Regions from separate parts of the Homo sapiens genome. Here all the other regions are reported to be linked to region 4. Evidence: microRNA targets listed by miRTarBase, many of them from high-throughput screens and not tested one by one. Region 4 holds a microRNA gene; each other region holds the end of a gene's coding sequence.

What was found. Region 4 holds the annotated microRNA hsa-miR-520a-3p (AAAGUGCUUCCCUUUGGACUGU, at 1,126-1,147, opposite strand). A microRNA usually pairs through its seed, bases 2 to 8, with sites in the 3' UTR of a target mRNA and lowers its output. Matches are read on the target gene's strand: a 7mer-m8 pairs with bases 2 to 8, a 7mer-A1 pairs with bases 2 to 7 and ends in A, and an 8mer does both.
Region 1: miRTarBase lists PSD3 as a target of hsa-miR-520a-3p. Seed matches in the 3' UTR shown: 7mer-m8 at 2,825-2,831.
Region 2: miRTarBase lists DEGS1 as a target of hsa-miR-520a-3p. Seed matches in the 3' UTR shown: 7mer-m8 at 1,127-1,133.
Region 3: the mRNA of ZNF12 is a reported target of hsa-miR-520a-3p. Seed matches in the 3' UTR shown: 7mer-m8 at 1,266-1,272.
Region 5: miRTarBase lists DCTN5 as a target of hsa-miR-520a-3p. The part of its 3' UTR that is shown has no 7-base or 8-base seed match.

What each region holds. Positions count from the first base shown.
Region 1 is chr8:18,532,360-18,536,480 of GRCh38, forward strand. PSD3 (pleckstrin and Sec7 domain containing 3) reads right to left here. Exons shown (of 16, transcript NM_015310.4): 16 at 1-3,599. The coding sequence ends at 3,384. Among named protein-coding and RNA genes, the nearest start is that of NAT2, 140 kb to the left of the region's middle.
Region 2 is chr1:224,191,678-224,195,798 of GRCh38, forward strand. DEGS1 (delta 4-desaturase, sphingolipid 1) reads left to right here. Exons shown (of 3, transcript NM_003676.4): 3 at 655-1,764. The coding sequence ends at 801. Among named protein-coding and RNA genes, the nearest start is that of DEGS1, 10 kb to the left of the region's middle. RefSeq lists a silencer at 882-951.
Region 3 is chr7:6,687,368-6,691,488 of GRCh38, forward strand. ZNF12 (zinc finger protein 12) reads right to left here. Exons shown (of 5, transcript NM_016265.4): 5 at 1,066-4,121. The coding sequence ends at 3,481. Among named protein-coding and RNA genes, the nearest start is that of ZNF12, 18 kb to the right of the region's middle.
Region 4 is chr19:53,687,959-53,692,079 of GRCh38, reverse strand. MIR520A (microRNA 520a) reads right to left here and starts at 1,199; the gene lies at 1,115-1,199. It overlaps MIR1283-1 (microRNA 1283-1), which reads right to left and starts at 3,599; the gene lies at 3,513-3,599. The region is part of intron 2 of LOC107985342 (a long non-coding RNA gene); the gene reads right to left.
Region 5 is chr16:23,666,304-23,670,424 of GRCh38, reverse strand. It overlaps DCTN5 (dynactin subunit 5), which reads right to left. Exons shown (of 6, transcript NM_032486.4): 6 at 1-3,378. The coding sequence ends at 3,281. Among named protein-coding and RNA genes, the nearest start is that of PLK1, 11 kb to the left of the region's middle. RefSeq lists an enhancer at 1-11.

The DNA.
Region 1 (4,121 bases), not on the chromosome of region 4:
TCCTCTTCCAGAGTAAATTCCTCATGTCACTTTTGCCCAGGGGCCAGTCCTCATTTTCTAGATTAGGATAACAGTTGGAGACGCATAGAGGGTCTTGTGTTTGCCACAAGACCACTGCACCAAAAAATGCTTTCTATCCTCTGCATCTAAGAGGAATAAAAAGGTTACACATAATCCAGGGACTACATTTCCATCAGAGGACTCTCTCCCATCATGGTTTTGCTGAGATTAATTAAAATTCACAAAAGTATTGCTCAGTTTAATTAGACACTGCTGAGAGTTAGCAAAATGATGTTTCAAAAAAGTGCACTTCAGAAATGCCTACGGGCTGGCGATAAAGTAAGGACTCTGCATCCCAGTAATTAAGTTTTGATTGCTAATGAGGAATCCCAGACACCTCCCTGTAAAAGCCAGCATGCGAGGTGGGGACAAACCCCTAAAATTCAGATTTTATACATGGGCCACCTGTATGGTCAATTTTGCAACAACACTATGACCAAGGCATTCTGATAGCTGTCAAGATTTTCTGTACTAGAAATTAATATGAAGTGTATTGACGTGAAGAAGAATGATTTATCATATGGAAGGAAGTCCCAAGGCTCCTGGGCGCTGAGGTGGGCGACGGAGGTGGGTGGCGTACCTTCAGAGGAAAGGGAAGGGGTGCTCCCTTGTACCGTGAATTGGGCAACAGGCTTGGAGCAGCTGTGAAAGGAAACATCCTCAATTTCTTCTGGCTAGATGCCACAGGAAATAAATTATCCCAAAGGAAAATGTGGTTGGCTATGGGCCAGACTCTCAGAATCTAGGCAAATCAGTGACTGTTTCCTCCCATAGCATAAACTCTTGGCCTCCTTCATGCACTCATGACAGACAGCAACCTTCAGAAGCCTCAGGGAAGAGGTGTTCTCAGCCCATGCGCTAAAGATGGACAGCATCATGCTACGGCAGTCTGAGATCCTGGCTCACAAAAGAACCTTTAAAGTTGTTTTTAAAGATAAACTATGCAAACATGGTATACTGAAGCTTCAAAAGAGCCCTTCGTATCCAATGATCTATTAGCCTATCCAGAAGTCCCTGGAGTTAATATTAGTGACTCATATGACACGGACAGTGCTATAGTGGTGCTGATGCTAGCCGAGTATTTCAACACTACTCTAAATGTCAGAAATACTGTAGCAAGGTACCATTCAATGTATATTAAATAAGTAAAATACATACAGACATTCTATATACATAGATATAGACTGTGGGCAAACACATTCAAGCCACTCAGGGAAGTTCCTTTTTCTTTAGTTACTGAAGCTTGTAGATGACATGGTCTAGGTACCTCTCTCCCCTCGGCTTAGTATAAACATTTAGGCAGAAAACAAATATCCTGATAATTTAGATTATCAGGTAGAAAGACAGATAACTTGCTTGTGGATATGTTGGATTCAGTGAGAGGCTACAAAAATCAATCTGATACATGGGCCATATTGGTAACTATCCTGTTTGTTTTGCAGTTCTGAAACATAAACTTAGTTACTGCCTTTACCCAAACAAGGCAGAGAGTTAAAAGTGAGGTTTTTTTTTTTACAGGTGTGGCAAAATACTTATTACAAAGAAAGCAACTGCAACCCTAGAGAGGGGTAAGCCTTCTCTGGGCAATAGTCATGGACATTTACAGAGGGGAAGGAAGTAAACGTTAATAAATAATTCTGTAAATAAATGCTAGTACATCATAATAACATACCACTTAGACACTACCATGGCTTTACAGCAGGTTTTCTCTAATTCACTGGAACCATGCTATTCCTGTAGAGCAGCTGATTCTTTGGTCATAGTACCTTCAACAAATAAACTATAGAACTAGAGAAACTTTCTAAGGGAGGAAAAAGAAAAATCAAAGTGATACTATTAGTTCTGAAGTTGTGCCACTTGCGGAGATTTTAACTTTAGGGATTACAGAGTTTCAAGGTTAGGAAATCACAAAGCTCTAGGTCTCAGTGGGCTAAACTTTCACTCCTTTCTCTTCCTCTACAGAAGAATATTCTGTTTATCACCCTGAACTTCAAAGGGACTGTAACTGGAACAAGCTCATGACTGCAAAGTTAATAGAACCATTTTGAGTAGACAGAAAGAAAGGACTGAAAATAGATGAAGTATTTTTAGGAGAAAGTTGAGTAGTAGCAGAGTGAAGTGGCTATCAAGGAGACTGAGACAAGAATAAACAAAGTCACTTTGCACCTGCAACCAGAAGATTCCTCAGTTTTCCAACCATAATTCATTCTGACTACTACTTTCAGATATATTTTAAAGAACCAATATCCATCGTGGACAACTGCAGCTACGTTTTCCTTCCTTATTTTGTCTTAAGGACACAAGAAAAGCTGTTTCATTTTAGTATTAATTTGTTAGGAAGGAAGACCTCAATATCACAACCAGGACACAACCCCATGCCCACACACGCACACACACGCACGCACACACACATATGTAGAGTAAGAAAAATCTATTCCTGGATGGAAGGATATCAACGATAGAGATGATGGATTTCTAGTCTAGACCCTGTGGGAGTGAGGTAACAATTCCTGCAGACTGAGCACATGCCTACTGCTGCAGCTCCTCAAGGGCCGATTATTGCCCCCATCCTTTAGCAAACAAAATTAACTGGGTATCAATCTTTCCTCAGCCTTCAAAGGCAAAATGACTCCACTTCCTCTTTCCCTTGCTTGGCTGAAATGGAATCAGCACTTCAAGCAAGCTAATGTGCTTCCCTAAGTTCTCAATCCTACGATCTTCACGCTTCTTTTCCCTGCTTCCAGCAGGGTCCGATCTCAACAACAAGTGCTAAGCTGCACATGAAGCTGCCTCATATTGGAGCAACTAGATTCCCAGCACTGTGATTCTTACTGGAGCATCTGTGAGTGCTCAATTCTACCTCTGTGACTGGGCAAGATTTCACATATAAAGGCGTATATTAACTCCAGCTAGAATTTACTAAAACTACAGTTTGTCCAGTTAAGTGTTTCACAATGGATTAAATTCTTTAACCTTAAAAAAAAGTTTAACAGTTGATATGAGAATACATAAAACAACTGAGCAGACTGCAAACAAGAGAAAACCAAAAGAGAAGGGATACATAATTCATTCTGAAATCACGATCCCCTCCTCCTCACAGAAAAGGTGCATTAGCTATCAAGTTGCAAAAATCATCAAAGCAAAAGAAATCAAGAGCAAAGACAATCTGTACAGAAACTAACAAAAATATACAATAGAAAAAATTACTAATGCACCGTTTTGTCACAGACTTTTTTTTTTTAAATATATTCACGGATTACCAGAAAGATCTTGAAAAACCCTATTTTGCTCCATGACCAGCACTTCCTGGCCGCAGATGGACTCTAAGTAACTTTTTGCTTAATGCTTGGTGTTTCAGGTCGGTGATCCTTCCTCTCTGACACGTTACGCTTGACTTTGGCAGTGATTGGAGAAGTATCCGGGTTCAGCGAAGGACTCGAGTGCGACTTCTTCAGTCCTGCAGCCTCGCTTTCATCGTTACTCAGTAGCTCTTTGCCTCCTTCCTTGAGAATGCTGACATACATTTCATAGCGGGTTTTCTGAAGGCAAAGCCAGAGAACAACGGTAGTCAGAAAACTGTTCAAAATGCACGTGTGCAGCACACTTGTGTATTACCCACCTGGAGAGTGTGAATGGCTGTTGAAGACTTCGCTTCATTTCCCAAACTGACAAATTACTTGGGCACTTACTGGGCACATGAGAGGCAACTACAGAGACTGTCTTATGTAGATAAGAAATTAAGTTAGAATTTTAGTTCTCATTTGTTCTAGATTCTGACAGAATGTCAACTTGGAGTTGCTGGCTACCAGATGGAACACCATGAATCTAGAACACTCAGGCATGAGAAGGGTCTAAGTTGGAGGAGCTGTCACCTCTGGTTTTCGGCGGCTGCATGGCTCTTGTGGCTCTGTACCAAAGTCACCTGAGCCTCCCCAGGTAGTCCAGGCCTCACAAGAAACTGGCTTGGATATGGTTGTTTACTCTTTTTCTGACTCCCTGTAACCCTACAAAGGCTTGCCTTGAGGGACCATTCCGTGGCTAATCTCCTGGACAGTCAGTCC
Region 2 (4,121 bases), not on the chromosome of region 4:
TCCGCCTCCCGAGTTCAAGCAATTCTCCTATCTCAGCCTCCTGAGTTGCTGGGACTACAGGCGCACGCCACCATGTCTGGCTAATTTTTTTGTATTTTTAGTAGAGATGGGGTTTCACCATATTGGTTAGGCTGGTCTCGAACTCCTGACCTCAGGTGATCCACCCGCCTCGGCTTCCCAAAGTCCTGGGATTACAGGTATGAGCCACCGCACCCAGCCAAGTGCTTAATTTCTATCTAATTAGCATGCCACAATTTATTAGTATTTGTAAGTTCCTGGATGGCAGGGATCAGATGTTGCCTTTATATTCTATGGCGTCATCCATGCAGTACATTCTTTAATAATATCAAGTTAATCTAATTGTATGTATTTGTTGTTAATTTTACAAATAAGCCAGATATTTAGTCCCTTGGAATGTGATGGGAGAGAGACCTAGAGGGTCGAGTGTATTCAACTGCTGCTGAAATGTAGACTGCTTTTTGTTTAGAATTCCCACAGCTGCTGCTGCTGCTGCTTTTTTTTTTTTTTAAGAGAGAGGAGGGAGGCAGGTCTCATGGTTTCCCTTCTCAGTGTTTGTGTCAACCATTCATCAGTCATCTTTGAAAGAACCTAGTAACACTCATTTTTCATCTTGCTGTATTTTTTCCCTTCTAGGTGAGGAAAATAGCAGCTGAATACTATGACAACCTCCCTCACTACAATTCCTGGATAAAAGTACTGTATGATTTTGTGATGGATGATACAATAAGTCCCTACTCAAGAATGAAGAGGCACCAAAAAGGAGAGATGGTGCTGGAGTAAATATCATTAGTGCCAAAGGGATTCTTCTCCAAAACTTTAGATGATAAAATGGAATTTTTGCATTATTAAACTTGAGACCAGTGATGCTCAGAAGCTCCCCTGGCACAATTTCAGAGTAAGAGCTCGGTGATACCAAGAAGTGAATCTGGCTTTTAAACAGTCAGCCTGACTCTGTACTGCTCAGTTTCACTCACAGGAAACTTGTGACTTGTGTATTATCGTCATTGAGGATGTTTCACTCATGTCTGTCATTTTATAAGCATATCATTTAAAAAGCTTCTAAAAAGCTATTTCGCCAGGCACGGTGGCTCATGCCTATAATCCCAGCACTTTGGGAGGCCAAGGTGGGTGGATCACCTGAGGTCAGGAGTTCGAGACCAGCCTGGCCAACACGGTGAAACCCCATCTCTACTAAAAATGCAAAAATTAGCCGGGCGTGGCGGCACATGCCTGTAATCCCAGCTACATGGGAGGCTGAGGTGGGAGAATTGCTTGAACCCAGGAGGCGGAGGCAGAGGCTGCAGTGACCCAAGATTGTGCCACTGCACTCCACCCTGGGCAACAGAGCAAGACCCCATCTCAAAAATAAATAAATATATATAAAAAATAAAAAGCTATTTCTAGTTTATTTCACTATAAAGTTTTGCTTTATTAAAAAGCTAATAAACAGCTATTAATCACAGTGTATTAGTATTTGTTACATTTTTGTATTTCACTATCTTTATACTATATAATATGGTAACTTGGGTACCGGGGGAACTTTAAAATTTCATCTCAAAAATAATTTTTAAAAAGCCTGAGGTATGATATAGCATAAAAGATTGAGATGAAAATATATTTCCCTGTAAGCTGAATTACTCATTTAAAAATTTTAACTTCTATATGGGACCCGAATTAGACACTGCTGAATCCTGTACAGCCTTACTCATAAATAAAGTACTTACTGAATTTCCACCATTCAAATTCATTTTTCAGGTGTGTTGACTCTCACATTAGAAACTGCTCAACTGATAAAGACTTTCATGTTATTTCACTGCAGTGGGAACTGGCTGTGGTCTGATGGTAGATCGTTGGTCTCAAGTAGCTGGTAGCATGGGCTGTTGTTATGTCAGCAGTCTTGCTTACCTCAAATATGTCACTTGGATACGTTTAGTGTAATATGGTGAATTATTTTAAAAATACATCAGCAGCTGGGTGTGGTGGTTCACACCTGTAATTCCATGCTTCGGAAAGCTGAGGCAGGAGGATCGCTTGAGACCAGGAGTTTGAGACCAGCCTGGGCAACATAGTGAGACCCCATCTTTTTTTATTTTTTATTTTTTGAAATGGAGTCTTGCTCTGTTGTCCAGGCTGGAGTGCAGTGGCGCAATCTTGCCTCACCACAACCTCTGCCTCCTGGGTTCAAGCGACTTTCCTGCCTCAGCTTCCTGAGTAACTGGGATCACAGGCGTGCACAGCCATGCCCAGCTAATTTTTTTTTTTTTTTTTTTTTTTTTGTATTTTTAGTAGAGACAGGTTTTCACTATGTTGGCCAGGCTGGTCTCAAACTCCTGATCTCAGGTGATCTGCCTGCCTTGGCCTCCCAAAGTTCTGGGATTACAGGCATGAGCCGCTGTGTCTGGCCCCCATCTTTTCAAAAAATAAGAGTGGTGTGGTGGTGTGCACCTGTAGTCCCAGCTACTTGGGAGGCTGAGATTGAGACTACAATGAGCCATGATCGCACTACTACGCTCCAGCTTGGGTGACAAACACCCTCTAAAAAAAAAAAAAAGTTGGCTACATTGCAGTTTCGTAAAGAATAAAACAACACCCAGAATGCTGAGGGCGGGGTGAGGAGTAGAATCCTCTGTGGGACTGCCAGGCCTGTCTCACAGACCTCATTTCATCCCCAAAATACTTTGCTTTCCCTTCCTGACCCCCTTGCCTAGGAAAATTCCTAGTATCTTCTAATCTGTTACTCAAAGAACAATCAAAGAGTGACAATAGAACCAAGTTTACAATTCAGATTTTACTCAGTCACTAAAGTATCTGCAAAACATACCCCTGGATTTGATGCTAGATCATAGAGATCATGTACTCCCATCAAGTCTATAGAACTCTGGCCAATGGCACCGGGCGTGGTGGCTGTAATACCAGTACTTTGGGAGGCTGAGGCAGGTGGATCACGAGGTTAGGAGTTCAAGACTAGCCTGACCAATATGGTGAAACCCTGTCTCTACTAAAAAAAATACAAAATTATCTGGGCATGGTGGCATGTGCCTGTAGTCCTGGCTACTCGGGAAGCTGAGGCAGGAGAATCGCTTGAACCCAGGAGGCAAAGGTTGCGTGAGCCGAGATCACGCCCTGCACTCCAGTCTGGGCGACAGAGCAAGACAACGTCTCCAAAAAAAAAAAAAAGGCCAGGCGCGGTGCCTCACGCCTGTAATCCCAGCACTTTGGGAGGCCGAGGTGGGCGGATCACGAGGTCAGGAGATCAAGACCATCCTGGCCAATACGGTGAAACCCCATCTCTAGTAAAAAATACAAAAAATTAGCCAGGCGTAGTGGCCGGCGCCTGTAGTCCCAGCTACTTGGGAGGCTGAGGCAGGAGAATGGCGGGAACCCAGGAGGCGGAGCTTGCAGTCAGCCGAGATCGAGCCACTGCACTCCAGCCGGGGCGACAAAGTGAGACTACGTCTCAAAAAAAAAAAACAACAACCAAAAGAACTTTAGCCAATGGCTGCAGCTGCCATGTAAATGCTGAAAACCTCCAAATCTATCACTTCAGACCTCTCACTACCTGCTGGATGCACAGAGTGGGTTGTCATCCCTCTCCAAAACTCCAGTCTCCACTTACATAACCACTTCTTTCCTGAATGGAAGTTTCAGTCTTCGTAGCAGGCATCCCGATTATTCTGGCTCCCATCTGCCAACTCGATCCATTCTTTAAGAGAGCTACCAATCTGGGCAGTAAGAAGGCTGGGCCCCATAACCTCTAAAGAATAACTCCAAACAAAATTATCCGGGCCTGGTGTTGTGTGCATCTGTGGTCCTAAGCTACTCAGGAGGCTGAGGTAGGAGTTTCGCTTCTTTTTTTCTTTTTTTTTTGAGATGGAGTCCTGCTCTGTCGCCCAGGCTGGAGTGCAGTGGCTCGATCTGGCTCACTGCAAGCTCCGCCTCCCGCGTTCACGCCATTCTCCTGCCTCAGCCTCCCGAGTAGCTGGGACTACAGGCGACCACCACCACGCCCGGCTAATTTGTATTTTTAGTAGAGACGGGGTTTCACCGTGTTAGCCAGGATGGTCTCAATCTCCTGACCTCGTGATCCGCCCGCCTTGGCC
Region 3 (4,121 bases), not on the chromosome of region 4:
ACCAATGCCTGGAATGAGACCCCCCCCCGCCCCGCTTGACTGACCCTCAGGATACCACTTGACATGATCACCCTAAATACTGCCTCCTTAAGATGTCTCCAGTCGACTGGGTGTGGTCGCTCATGCCTGTGATCCCAGCACTTTGGGAGGCCGAGGCAGGCAGATCACAAGGTCAGGAGATCGAGGCCATCCGGGCCAACATGGTGAAACCCCATCTCTACTAAAAATACAAAAAATTAGCTGGGAGTGGTGGCTGGCACCTGTAGTCCCAGCTACTTGGGAGGCTGAGGCAGGAGAATCGCTTGAACCCGGAAGGCAGAGTTTGCAGTGAGCCGAGATCGTGCCACTGCACTCCAGTCTGGTGACAGAGCAAGGCTCTGTCCGTCTCAAAAACAAACAAAAAACAAAACGAACAAACAAAAAAATGAATGTCTCCAGTCGTAGCAATGACTGGCTTTTGAAGTGAGGAGAGGATGCTCTAATGGAACCTAAGTGCTCCCATAGGACCGAGCTGCTCTCCTATCTTATGAAGGCACCATGGTGGGCTATCATCTCCTGGGCATACTACAGAGGACCATAAATGTATAGGGAAAAAGATTACAATTCAACTACTCTTTAAGATTTGTTCTGTCTGCCATTACCTTTCCCGCAAAAGAGCCCCATTCACATCCTTAGTTCTCTGGACCCAAACACTGCTCTTATTTCCGTGGCACCTCCGGGCTTGCACTGTAACAAGCCAGCAGCCCATGCTAGTGCATCAATTTGGCAGGAATCATAGACTTTATATTCAATGAAGGGAAAATCAATTTATTTTTGATGTAGTTATCTCTGTGATAGGAAGAAAAAAGCAATATAATTTTAAGAATGTATTTCCTGGTGGGCTTCATTTTAAGATGGGCCAAAAAAATCTCTTAATTTATGAAAACATTGGCATCTTTTAAACTATAAACATGTTACTATGAACACTGACTACATTACTGAAGAGGCAGTTCAGGACCACTTATATACGTACCAGACCCTTTGATGTGCAGGCAATCCATAGGATAAGAAGAAAATGCCAAGCCATTTACAGTTTTCAAATATTTTACTGAAAATGCATATTGTACAATTAATGTATAATGACACACCAGTGTGAGAAACCTCCATAGGTATCATTTCCACAAATATGCTATGAATATAGAGTTCCTACACAAAACTATACAACTTACCAGATGTAATTCCTGTTACGTACCATACTCACAATCGTCTTGAAGAATATGGAGAAAAAGTGCTGAGTGACAAAAACAGGAGCCATGTGTGATTTTAATAAATGGAAAACACGGCATTTCAGCTCAGTGGTAAAGCAGTAAACCAATCAGATGCTTAGCTATCAAGTAATCATGTGAGAGGAAACAGAATTAGATCCTTACCTCATACTATATGTTGTCAGCTAACACTGTAGCAGTGGTATATGAATCACATAAATTACCTCCAACAAAATGTATTCCATGTATTAGAAAAAAGGAGGTATGCCTAACATTGTGTCACGTTCCAAAGGTGAATTTTGCAGGTCAACGATATGACAGTTCAAGGAAGCATACATTTTATTGTTTCAAGTTGATTTCTAATGCTCAAACTATTTACGTCAAAATTTACAGAAAATAAATCTCTATATCAACAGCTTAAAATAAATGACTTACCTAAAGTCCACTTCTGAACTGCATAACTCCTATAAAGGTTTCAGTCTGTACCAATTAGAATGTCTTCAGTTATTAGTAATAGAGCATCCTAAATCAACTGGCTTAAAAATAAGTTTAGTCTCTCACAAAAGAAACAGTCCAAAGGAGGAGTGGCTACAAGGCTGCTTGGTTTGGTGGCTCAAAGACATCATCCAGGTCTCAGGGTCTTTCAGTATTTCTGCTCAGGCCATGATTAAACTATAATCCATTGCTGAAAGATGGTTACCAGGCACCACATCCAGACAAGGTACTGTTCACCACAAGATTCCACTTCCCTTTGCTTGAATCCTTGGGCCTTTGAGAAAACCTTTTCCAGAAGTAGTCTGTCAGGTATATCCTTTGTTTTATGTCTAGAATTGGGCCCTGTGACCACTGTAAATCAACTGCTGGCAACGAGAAGGGGAGTGTCACTGGTTAAAACTAATCAGGATTTATCTCACTTCCTTTTGAGGATAAATGGATAACCAAACTCCGCCAGCAGAGTAAGGGAGTGACTAAGAAAGTCACTCGGCAATGTCTGCCACAGACCCTTGTTAGAATGTGTTCTTAATTCATTAACAGGAAGGAGTAGAGCACAAGGTTTAAAACCAGTACGACATCAAATGAAAACACAGTGAATTCCTATGTTAGAAAGTCACTCGGCAATGTCTGCCACAGACCCTTGTTAGAATGTGTTCTTAATTCATTAACAGGAAGGAGTAGAGCACAAGGTTTAAAACCAGTACGACATCAAATGAAAACACAGTGAATTCCTATGTTACACAGCATTGTGCTCTGCACTGTTATGTAAGTGTCCAAATAAAAAACAGTAGAAAAAAAAATAGATACAAATGGGAATATTTTAAGTATATCTTAAAACTGTATAGAGTGCAATGATTTTCTCACTCTTGGAAAACTGGCATTATTAATTTTAAATTACCAAGCAAAGTTTTCTATCTATTTTATACATGGATATTTATCTCTCTGGCTGACTCAGATACAGTTGAAAACATTATAAAAGCATTGGTCCTTTAGAGCTGATATTGTTCATTAAGAATGATCAATGCATTAAATCCTAGAGAAGAGTGCAAGAAAAAGTATACTTTATACCTATCAAATGATATTAATGTAGTGCTGTTTAGAATACTCTTACTATATGAATTACAAAATAAGGATACAACGTTTTTTCAAACATGATTCGAAGTGAACATACAATTCCTGTAATGTACTGTAATAAAAACAACCCTCTCCCCAAACATAAGTCCTATGTTCTTTGGGAACTGCTTACATGAGTTTAAGGTTACCGACTTAACTAGCTATCCTGATGACTTTACAGTTTCTATTTACACAAGAAGTATGTTTATTCACAGCAGGAATCTTCTATTTCTTTTTTTTTTTTCAAGTTTGCTATTGTATCAGAAACATATCTTTTAGTATTAACAGTTTCCAAAGGATTATGTCTTCCACATTCCTTATACTGATAGATTTCCCCTTGGCTATGATTTCCCTGATATGCAAAACAGTTCCAATCCATGGTGACATGTATATACATTCTTAATATTTATAAATTTTTACTTGTCTATAGTCTAGTATTGTTATACCATGTGGTCTTGTTATAATCATGGTTTCCATTCTGTGAGTCTTCAGATTATGAGTCCAACACACAAGGGGATGTCCACACTAACCTGTGTGAACTCTCTGATGTACAAGGTGTTTGACTTCAGGCAGGAGTTTCTGATTCACTATACTGAAAGGGTTCTCTGATATAAAATGAGGTCTGACTTCAGAGAAGCCTTCCCACATCTATTACATTCATATTGCCTCTCCTATGAATTCTCTGATGGCTGTTGAATGCTGATTTGTGGTAGAATTTTTTTCCACATTCAGTACACTCATAGGGTTTCTCTCCTGAATGAGTTCTATAATGTACAGTGAGGTATGACATCCGAGAGAAGGCTTTTCCACACTCATTACATTCAAAGGGTTTCTCTCCTGAATGAATTCGATGATGTATAGTGAGATAGGACATCTGAGAGAAGCACTTCCCACATTCATAACATTCGTAGGCTTTCTCTCCTGTGTGTGTTCTCTGATGTCGATTAAGGGCTGAATTCTGGCAGAAGGTTTTCCCACATTCACTACATTCATAGGGCTTCTCTCCTGAATGAATTCTATGATGTATAGTGAGGTATGACATCTGAGAGAAGAATTTTCCACATATATAGCATTCATAGGGCTTCTCTCCTTTGTGTATTCTCCGATGTCTACAAAGGGCTGAGTTCTGGTAGAAGGTTTTCCCACATTCACTACATTCATAGGGTTTTACTCCTGAATGAGTTCTATGATGGATAGTGAGGTATGACAACTGGGAGAATAACTTTCCACATTCATTACATTCGTAAGGTTTCTCTCCTGTGTGCACTC
Region 4 (4,121 bases):
AAAAACAAATTTCAGTGTTACGGACAAGCAGATTACACTAAAAAGACACGAGTGAACAGGAACAAAAAGAAATTGTATCAATACGGACACCCACTGGGGATTACAGAATAGACTGGATGGACTTGGAGGATTACCCACTCTCTTAATGAAGGAACCATGGTTTGGATTGATTATACTAAATTGATGGGAGGCCATTGTATGACATGACCAACCCAAATGAAATCTGTGGGACCAGGTGCTATGTAATCTGTTTTTAAAGAAATGGGATCTTGCTATGTTGGCCCAGGCTGGAGTGCAGTGGCTATTCAAAGGTGGGATCTGTGCACGGTATAGCCTTAAAATCAAAGCACCCTCCCGCCCCGGCCCCTGCAGTAACTGGGACTGTGTGCCCCATGATGCCTGGCCAAGTCAACTATCTTTGAAATGGGTCATCAGGACAAGGTGGCTCACACCTGTAGGATCGCTTGAGCTCAGGAGTTGAGACCGTCCTGAGCAACAGAGACCCCATCTCTACCAAAAATTAAAAGCTGAACCAAGTGTTGTGTCACGCCCCATGTAATCCCAACTACTTGGGAGGCTGACTCAGGAAGACCACTTGAGGCCGGACACAGTGGCTCACGCCTGTAATACCAGCACTTTGGGAAGCCAGGGAGGCAAATCACTTGAAGTCAGGAGTTGAGAACAGCCCAGCAAACATGGTGTAACCCCATCTCTGCTAAAAATACAAAAATTAGCATGACATGGTGGTGGGCGCCTGTAATCCCAGCTACATGGGAGGCTGAGGTGGCAGAACTGCTGGAACCTGGGAGATGGAGGTTGCAGTGAGTGGAGATTGTCCTACTGCACTCCAGCCTGGGTCACAGAGCCAGATTCCATCTCTAAATGAATGAATGAATAAATAAATAAATAAATAAATAAATAAATAAATAAATAAATAGAGGGTCTCTTGGGCCCAGGAGAGCTAGGTTGGAACTGCCACTGCACTCCAGCCTGGGCAACAGAGACCCTGTCTTGGAGAAAAACAAAATCAGAACCCCAACATCATCCGAGTCTGATGATGAGCGTGCTCTGCAAATGTATTACCAAGATCAGCATCAACTTCAACGCTGCTTTACTCAAACCGAAACAGTCCAAAGGGAAGCACTTTCTTTTCTCTCAGACAACAGAAAGTACTTCCCTCTGGAGGGTCACAGCCTGAGATCTTCTTGCTCCAGCACTCTGGGTTTATTGTTGGAATTTTCCTTGACCAGGTTTAAATGGACACAAAAATAAAGATGCATTTTTCCTGGCCCTGTTTGCATGTTTTCTGGAATCCAGAATATAAACCCCCTAAAAGGACCATCTCCAGTTCCTTCTTTCAAAGGCTCAGCAGGTTAGCCTTGTTCATCAAGGGGCAATCCTCCTGAGTTTTGCCCCCAAAGAGAAAAAGCAATGCCTACTACTCATACCTTATCTTTAACCAAGAGAATCGAACTGAATTTCTAGAGAACAGCAATGGATTTTGAGCCAAGTGTTCACTTGAGTTCCAGTATAGGCACATGTAGTACCCATGGGGGCATCCAAAATGGAATCTAAGATGTTGAAGAATGTACATTGTCGCACACACAAACATCCTCCAGGAGAGACCACAGGCTACGCTGTAAAAGCTCCTCAATAAAAAAATACACAAGTACCTGTTGGGTGCGGTGGCTCACATCTCTAACCCCAGCACTTCAGGACGCCGAAGTGAGAGGATCACTTGAGCTCAAGAGTTCCAGACAAGCCTGGGCAACATGGTGAAGCTTCATCTGTACAAAAAATACAAAAGTGAGCCAGGTGTGGTGGTGCATACCTGTAGACACTAATTCAGGAGGCTGCGGTGGCAGGTGGAGGTTGCAGTGAGCCAACATTGCACCACTGCACTCCAGCCTCGGTGATATAGTCAGGCTGTGTCTTGTAAAAACTAGAAACACATACACACACACACACACACACACACACACACACAAAGACACACACTCAAAGTGATAGTCTCCTGCCTCACCCTCCGGAGTAGCTGAGACTACAGGCGTGCGCCACCAGCCCTGGCTAATTTTTTGTATTTTTAGCAGAGACATGGTTTCACCATGTTGGCCAGTCTGGTCTCGCCCTCCTGATCTCAGGTTATCCACCCGCCTCGGCCTCCCAAACTGCTGGGATTACAGGCGTGATCCACCGCACCTGGCCATACATCATATATTTTTGAGACCCTGTCTCAAAAGAAAGAAAGTTCCATATACTGTATGCTCACAGAAAGAATAATTCCTACACATAAGTCCTTGCTTTGGCAGCTCACACCCCCGTCTCTAAAATACAAAACCTAAATCAAGTGTGCGTTGATAACGTGGTCATACACCCTGTATTTCAGCTTCATTTACCCAATAAAAACTCAAAGCCCATGCACTCCACCTCTGTGCTCTTGCGAAGCAATGCACATCCCATCTGCAAGGGACACTGAGGTTCCCTTCAACTCTACCTCAAGTCAAGTCAAGGGAGGTTCTGTAAACCAGTGCAGGCATAACTTCCACGGAGTGAAAGGTGTTGAGGGCTGGACGAACAGGCATCACTCACTATGGCAACAAGAGCGGATGCGCATCCCACCTGTTACTAGGGAGGCCCTTCTAGGGTCCTCAAGGTTTTTGTGAAAGTATCTGTGGTTTTGTCCCATGTGACATTTATCACTGCAACTGAGATTCATCTTGTCTATAATAGCTTGTTTCTCATATTAGCCACAGCCAACATTTCACAGCTTACCAAGAAATTTGCATTTAAATGTGAGGTTTTGCAGGTTGGAATGGTACACTGGAAAAATTACCTGCAGAAAACAGGATAAACAGTGCAGCTGCAGTCACAGCACTCACTACGGTTGGCATGAGTGGGTGAGGGTTGAATCAACTACACCCTTCCTGCAGAAAAAGGTCTATTCCGAGAAATAAGTGGAAGCTGTTAAGCAAGAAAAATTTTCGATGTCAGGGACGAGCAGATTAAATTAAAAAGACAGGAATGGGCCGGGCACGGTGGCTTATATCTATAATCCCCAGCACTGTGGGAGGCCAAGGAGGCAGATCACTTGAGGTCAGGAGTTGAGACCAGCCCCGCAAACATGGTGAAACCCCGTCTGTGCCAAAAGTACAAAAACTGGCAGGTCATAGTGGTGAGCATTTGTAATCCCAGCTACTAGTGACACGGAGGTGGGAGAATTTCTGGAACCTGGGAGGCAGAGGATGCAATGAGTGGAGATCATCCCACTCTACTCCAGCCTGGGTGACAGAGCCAGGCTCCATCTCAAAAATGAATACATAAATAAATAAAAAGAGGATCACTTGAGCCCAAGAGAGCTAGGTTGGAAGTGCCACCGCACTCCAGCCTGGGCAACGGAGACCCTGTCTTAGAAAAACACAAAACCAAAACATAACCCCGCTATCATCCAAGTCTGATGATAAGCATGCTCTGCAAATGTATTACCAAGATCAGCATCAACTTCAACACTGCTTTTCTCAAACCGTAACCCTCAAAAGGGAAGCGCTTTCTCTTCTTTCTGACAACAGAAAGCGCTTTCCTTTGTAGACTCATAGCTTGAGATCTTCTTGCTCCAGCACTCTGGGTTTCGTGTTGGAATTTTCTTTGACCAGGTTTAAATGGACAGAAAAATAAAGATGCATTTAGTGGCCCTGTTTGCATGTTTTCTGGAATCCAGAATAAAACGCCTGAAAAGGACCATCTCCAGTTCCTTGCTTCAAAGGCTCAGCAGGTTAGCCTTGTTCATCAAGGGACAATCCTCCCGAGTTTTGTTCTCAAACAGAAAAAGCAATGCCTACTAGACATACCTTATACTTAACCAAGAGAATTGGACTGGATTTCCAGAGAACAGCAAATGGATTCTGAGCCAAGTGTTCATTTGAGTTCCAGTGCGGAGACACACAGTCCCATTGGAAACATCCAAAATGTGATCTAAGATGTTGAACTATATACATTGTCGCACACACAAACATCCTCCAGGATAGACCACAGGCTAGGTGGTAAAAGCTCCTCAATAAAATTTGAACAGGAATACACAAGTACCAGTTGGGTGTGGTGGCTCATACCTCTAATCCCAGCACATC
Region 5 (4,121 bases), not on the chromosome of region 4:
ATATGTTAACTATGAACAATGTTTGTCTGATTAATTTCAAGTCTGCCAGATGTATCAGTGACTAAGAAAGGAACTGTGGCCTCAGATCCTGAGTGAAATGGTTCATGCAGAAGTGACTAATACAGAAGCCACCACCCCAACCCCAAATAACCACAAGGGCTCTGTGCAGCCATGTAAAACAGAATCAGTCAACAGGAGGCTCACAAGACAATCATTCACCTTTGTTCCCTGCAGCAGGTATCCTGCAATCTGAGACTTATCTTGAGCTGGGGTAAGGTCTGAGGCATGCTGGCAGGGTGTGTGAGGGTTGGGGGTGAGGGTGGTCACATCCAGGCAATCATTCTATTAAGGATGTGCTAGATGACCCACAGACTCAGGCCTGACTCCTCAGGAGCTCACAGTTAGTAGGGGTTCAGACAAGAACACAGGTACATAACTAAAACTCTATTGATAAGGGCGCCTCGGTAAGGTGCTATGGGAACCATAAGGATGCAGTTCCATGGCCCAGTCAGCTCATCTGGGGAAAAATAATAAAACAAAAAGGAAGCAGTTCCAGACAGAAGACCATCTCCAAATGGTTCTTTATTGAACACCCACTTTGGCTAGGCAATATCCTCCCCCTGCCCTCTAATCCAGGCTCAGGTACCCCCAGTGGAGTATCCTCAGAAGGCAACTCCCAAGACCAGGAGTAATGAGAGATTGGGCAGAGGGTAAGGGACAGCAGGGAGACGGAGGAAAATGAAGACACCAGGGAAAGAGGAGAGGCCTGAACTGGACAGCTGATGCTTTGTCCTGCCCAGCACCCATTCGTCCCTTCTTCAGGTAATATCATCTGCCACCACAACCACCAGCACCAACTCTCAGTCTCTGTGGGTACATGCCAGGCCTGTCCATTTGGTGTATTCCATCTTCCTGGCCACAATGATGACTTGAGGCTGGATACCTTCCTCGTCTGGACCAATGAGAACCAAATCCAGCAGTTCTGTCAGCAAAGGGGAGCTCTTTTTATCAATAACTGGTGCTGTGGGGCCACACTGTGAAGCCCAAGAATAAAGCCAACTCAAATGAAAGCAGAGCTGAGAGCCAAAGAGACAGATCCCTGTTTGGAGTCCTGGGATGCAGCCTGAAGCCCAATCTAGCCCATCCTTTTCAGCTACGTGAGCCATTAAATTCCCTCTGCCCCAAGTGAACTGGAAAGAGTCCCAACCAAGGTCCTTCCCATCTGGTTGTTCTTCTGGAAGTATTTTGAGGACAAGGAGATTTTCATCTCCAGGGTTATAAAAGTAATTGTGTGGTGACAGGCTGTTCCTAGGTCCCTGGGGTGAGAGCCACCATGGAGACAGAGTCCAGCTCGCCTTTCCTAGGATACACACTCACGACTGTCAACACATCTTCGAATACATCAGCACATAATTATAAACTCCTATTGTTTGTAGTAGCTATTGTTTTTGTCTTCCCATCACCTTGTTTTGGATGAAGAAAAGGTCATGACCCAGACTGGATTAATCATGTGGCCAAACATGCATGGCCACAGTGACTGATCCAAGAGGACATGGAACTCACAACAAACCATTGAGAACTTTGGGAGTTTCCAAATTCGAACTGGAAGGGAAGAAACCTTTCATTCAGAGCCCCCAAGCTAGGAGGATGCAGGTCTGGAGCTATCAGCTGTCATGGCTCCAAATGCACGGCGAAGGCTCATGTGCAGCAGGAGGAAAGGAAGCCAACAAAGAGGCCTGGTTGAGTCTGCTTGTTGTCTCCCAATGGCCATTCTTCCCCCACTCCTTTTTACTAGCAGAATCTCCTTCCTCAGAGTTTTGGCTGCCCAAGTAGAAACTAAATTTACAGCCTCCTTTGTTGCTAACTGTGGCCACATGGCAAGACAGTAGGAACCTGGGTGCCTGATGACATCATGGACCAGCCCCTTGCCTGGCCTGGACCAGCTGACTATCACTGCACTGTTATGGGAGAGAGAAATAAACTTCCATCTTGTCGAAGCTATGTATTTTGGTGGTTTTATGTATAAACATTTTAAAAATAACAAACTAGAAAGGAGTTCTAGATGGAACTAGTGGCAATGATTACATACAGCTGTTTTGTTTTGCAAACCCCACAACTGGATATTAAGTCAGGATAGCTCCTGCTAAATTCTAACCTCAAGGCTGAACTGTTCTGCCCTATTCACTTACAGATCAGAGCATTAGGCAAGGACAACCTTCTTAGCCCCTCACTTCTGAATCTTCCTTCTAAGCTAAGAGGTCAGAGCAGAACGAGGAAATGTTGTGCTATTTGGCCAGAAGGAGATGGTAAGAACAGCCCTAGTAACTTCATTTACTCCTGAGGCTCTGTGCCCACAAACTGATTCTAAGAGCCCTTCCTGTATATATGCGAATTAGCTCTAAGTACAGACATTTTGGTGTGAATTGTGGAGTTTATGGCAAATACAGGGTAGGCTGAATGGTTCTAGGCCAGGAAGCAAGAGTTCACAAATGCGGTGTCTTCAATGAAATAAGGTAAGTACCTTGAAGCAAGGAGTAACCACCTGACTAATGCATCCACATGAGAGACTCAAATCTAACACTTGGCAAAATTACAATCTGGGATACTGAGGTCCCCACTTTTAGTGAAAGCCAAAGGCCCTAGGTCAAAATGCTAAAAAGTCTTTTACTAACTATCCTAGGACAGCTAAGGTCATTTTGGGAAGAAGAGAGAAACACTATTCACCCCTCCCTTCAAGTTTTAATAGACAACAGGAATCTGGGCTCTGAAAAGTCACAAACACCTTTCCCAAGATGATGAGCAACTGCAACAACTGGCCAAATGTGTTAGCAGCAGAAAAGCTGGGCATTACCTGTGTGAGAGGCGCTCAGCATGGGCAGTGAATGGCCGTGAGCAGCGCACCAGCTACATAGCCTCCACACCGGAAGGGTGCTGCTGCTCTGCAGGTCCGTTTCAGGCGGGATCCAGCCATCCACAGGACCAAGGGGCTGGAGTGTTGGGAACAGATGATTCTGTGTTCCACAGATAATGGTACAAAGTGACTGTTCATAGATAAGGTGTAAGCACAGCATTTGAAGACAGCTCCTCCAGATGGTCTGTCTGTTAGTGAATTCTTAAGCACTTAGAGCCTTGAAGATTGAGAAATTCTAAAGAAATTTTTTAAAAGGAGGAGGGTGGTAGATGTCAAAGACACAAAAGCTCTTTGTAGGTGCTGACTGGCTCACTTTGTCCCCAGGTTCATCTTAGAGCTCAAGCAGATTCAAGACATGAGGCAGAGATGCTAGACTTGCGTCAGGGGCAAAAACTTCTGGTAGTAGCTCTTGGTGACGTCAATCATCAGCTCCTGAGTGCACTCCGGGAGCTCCCCTGAGAAGAGTCCTGGGGAAAGAAAGACCCAGCTCTAAGGAGCTTGAAGAAGTTACAAGAAGTTAAGATATTTCTCTGGCAATATCCTTCTCACCTCAATCAGATGCATGTCTGACAATCACTTAAATAATCGCTGAGGCTGTTCTGGTCCAGTGCTTGCTAAGAACAGCTAAACTTTTTCACAGCAGGACCCCAATATGGAGAAATTACTAAACAAAAGTCTCTCCTTCCTCCTCTGCAAAAGCAGAGATGCATGACACGGTAGAATGGCCAAATGCCTCCCCGAAGAATCTGAGTGATGATTTTGTTCATCTTAGAAACTCAGATTCAATGATCTGAGAGATGAGATTTATTTTTTAATTGGAAAAACAATTAAACCACTCAGTGGTAGGTATCATATACTGTCAAATCTCTCTGTTCATATTATTTTCCATCTGTGAATTTATGACGTGCCTCTGTATATGCTACATGATTTCAGCTGTGTAAAACAACATGGAGAAGAAGATACTGTCTTGGGGTAGGGCTAAGGGAATGTGAGGTTTTCTCCTTCCTTCTGCTTTTCAGTGTTTTCCAAGTTTTCTGAGAGAAGTACGTATCACTTTTGTTTCCTCAAGCTTTATAATTTGGAACTCCGGGCTCCTGATGGGCTTTACTTGTGAGCATTCTATCAGCCAAGGTCCAGAGATAATGTATTAATATTTGCCCCTCTCAGGTATCCCCAGGGTATTGCTGGTCTTAGACCATGGTTTATGCTA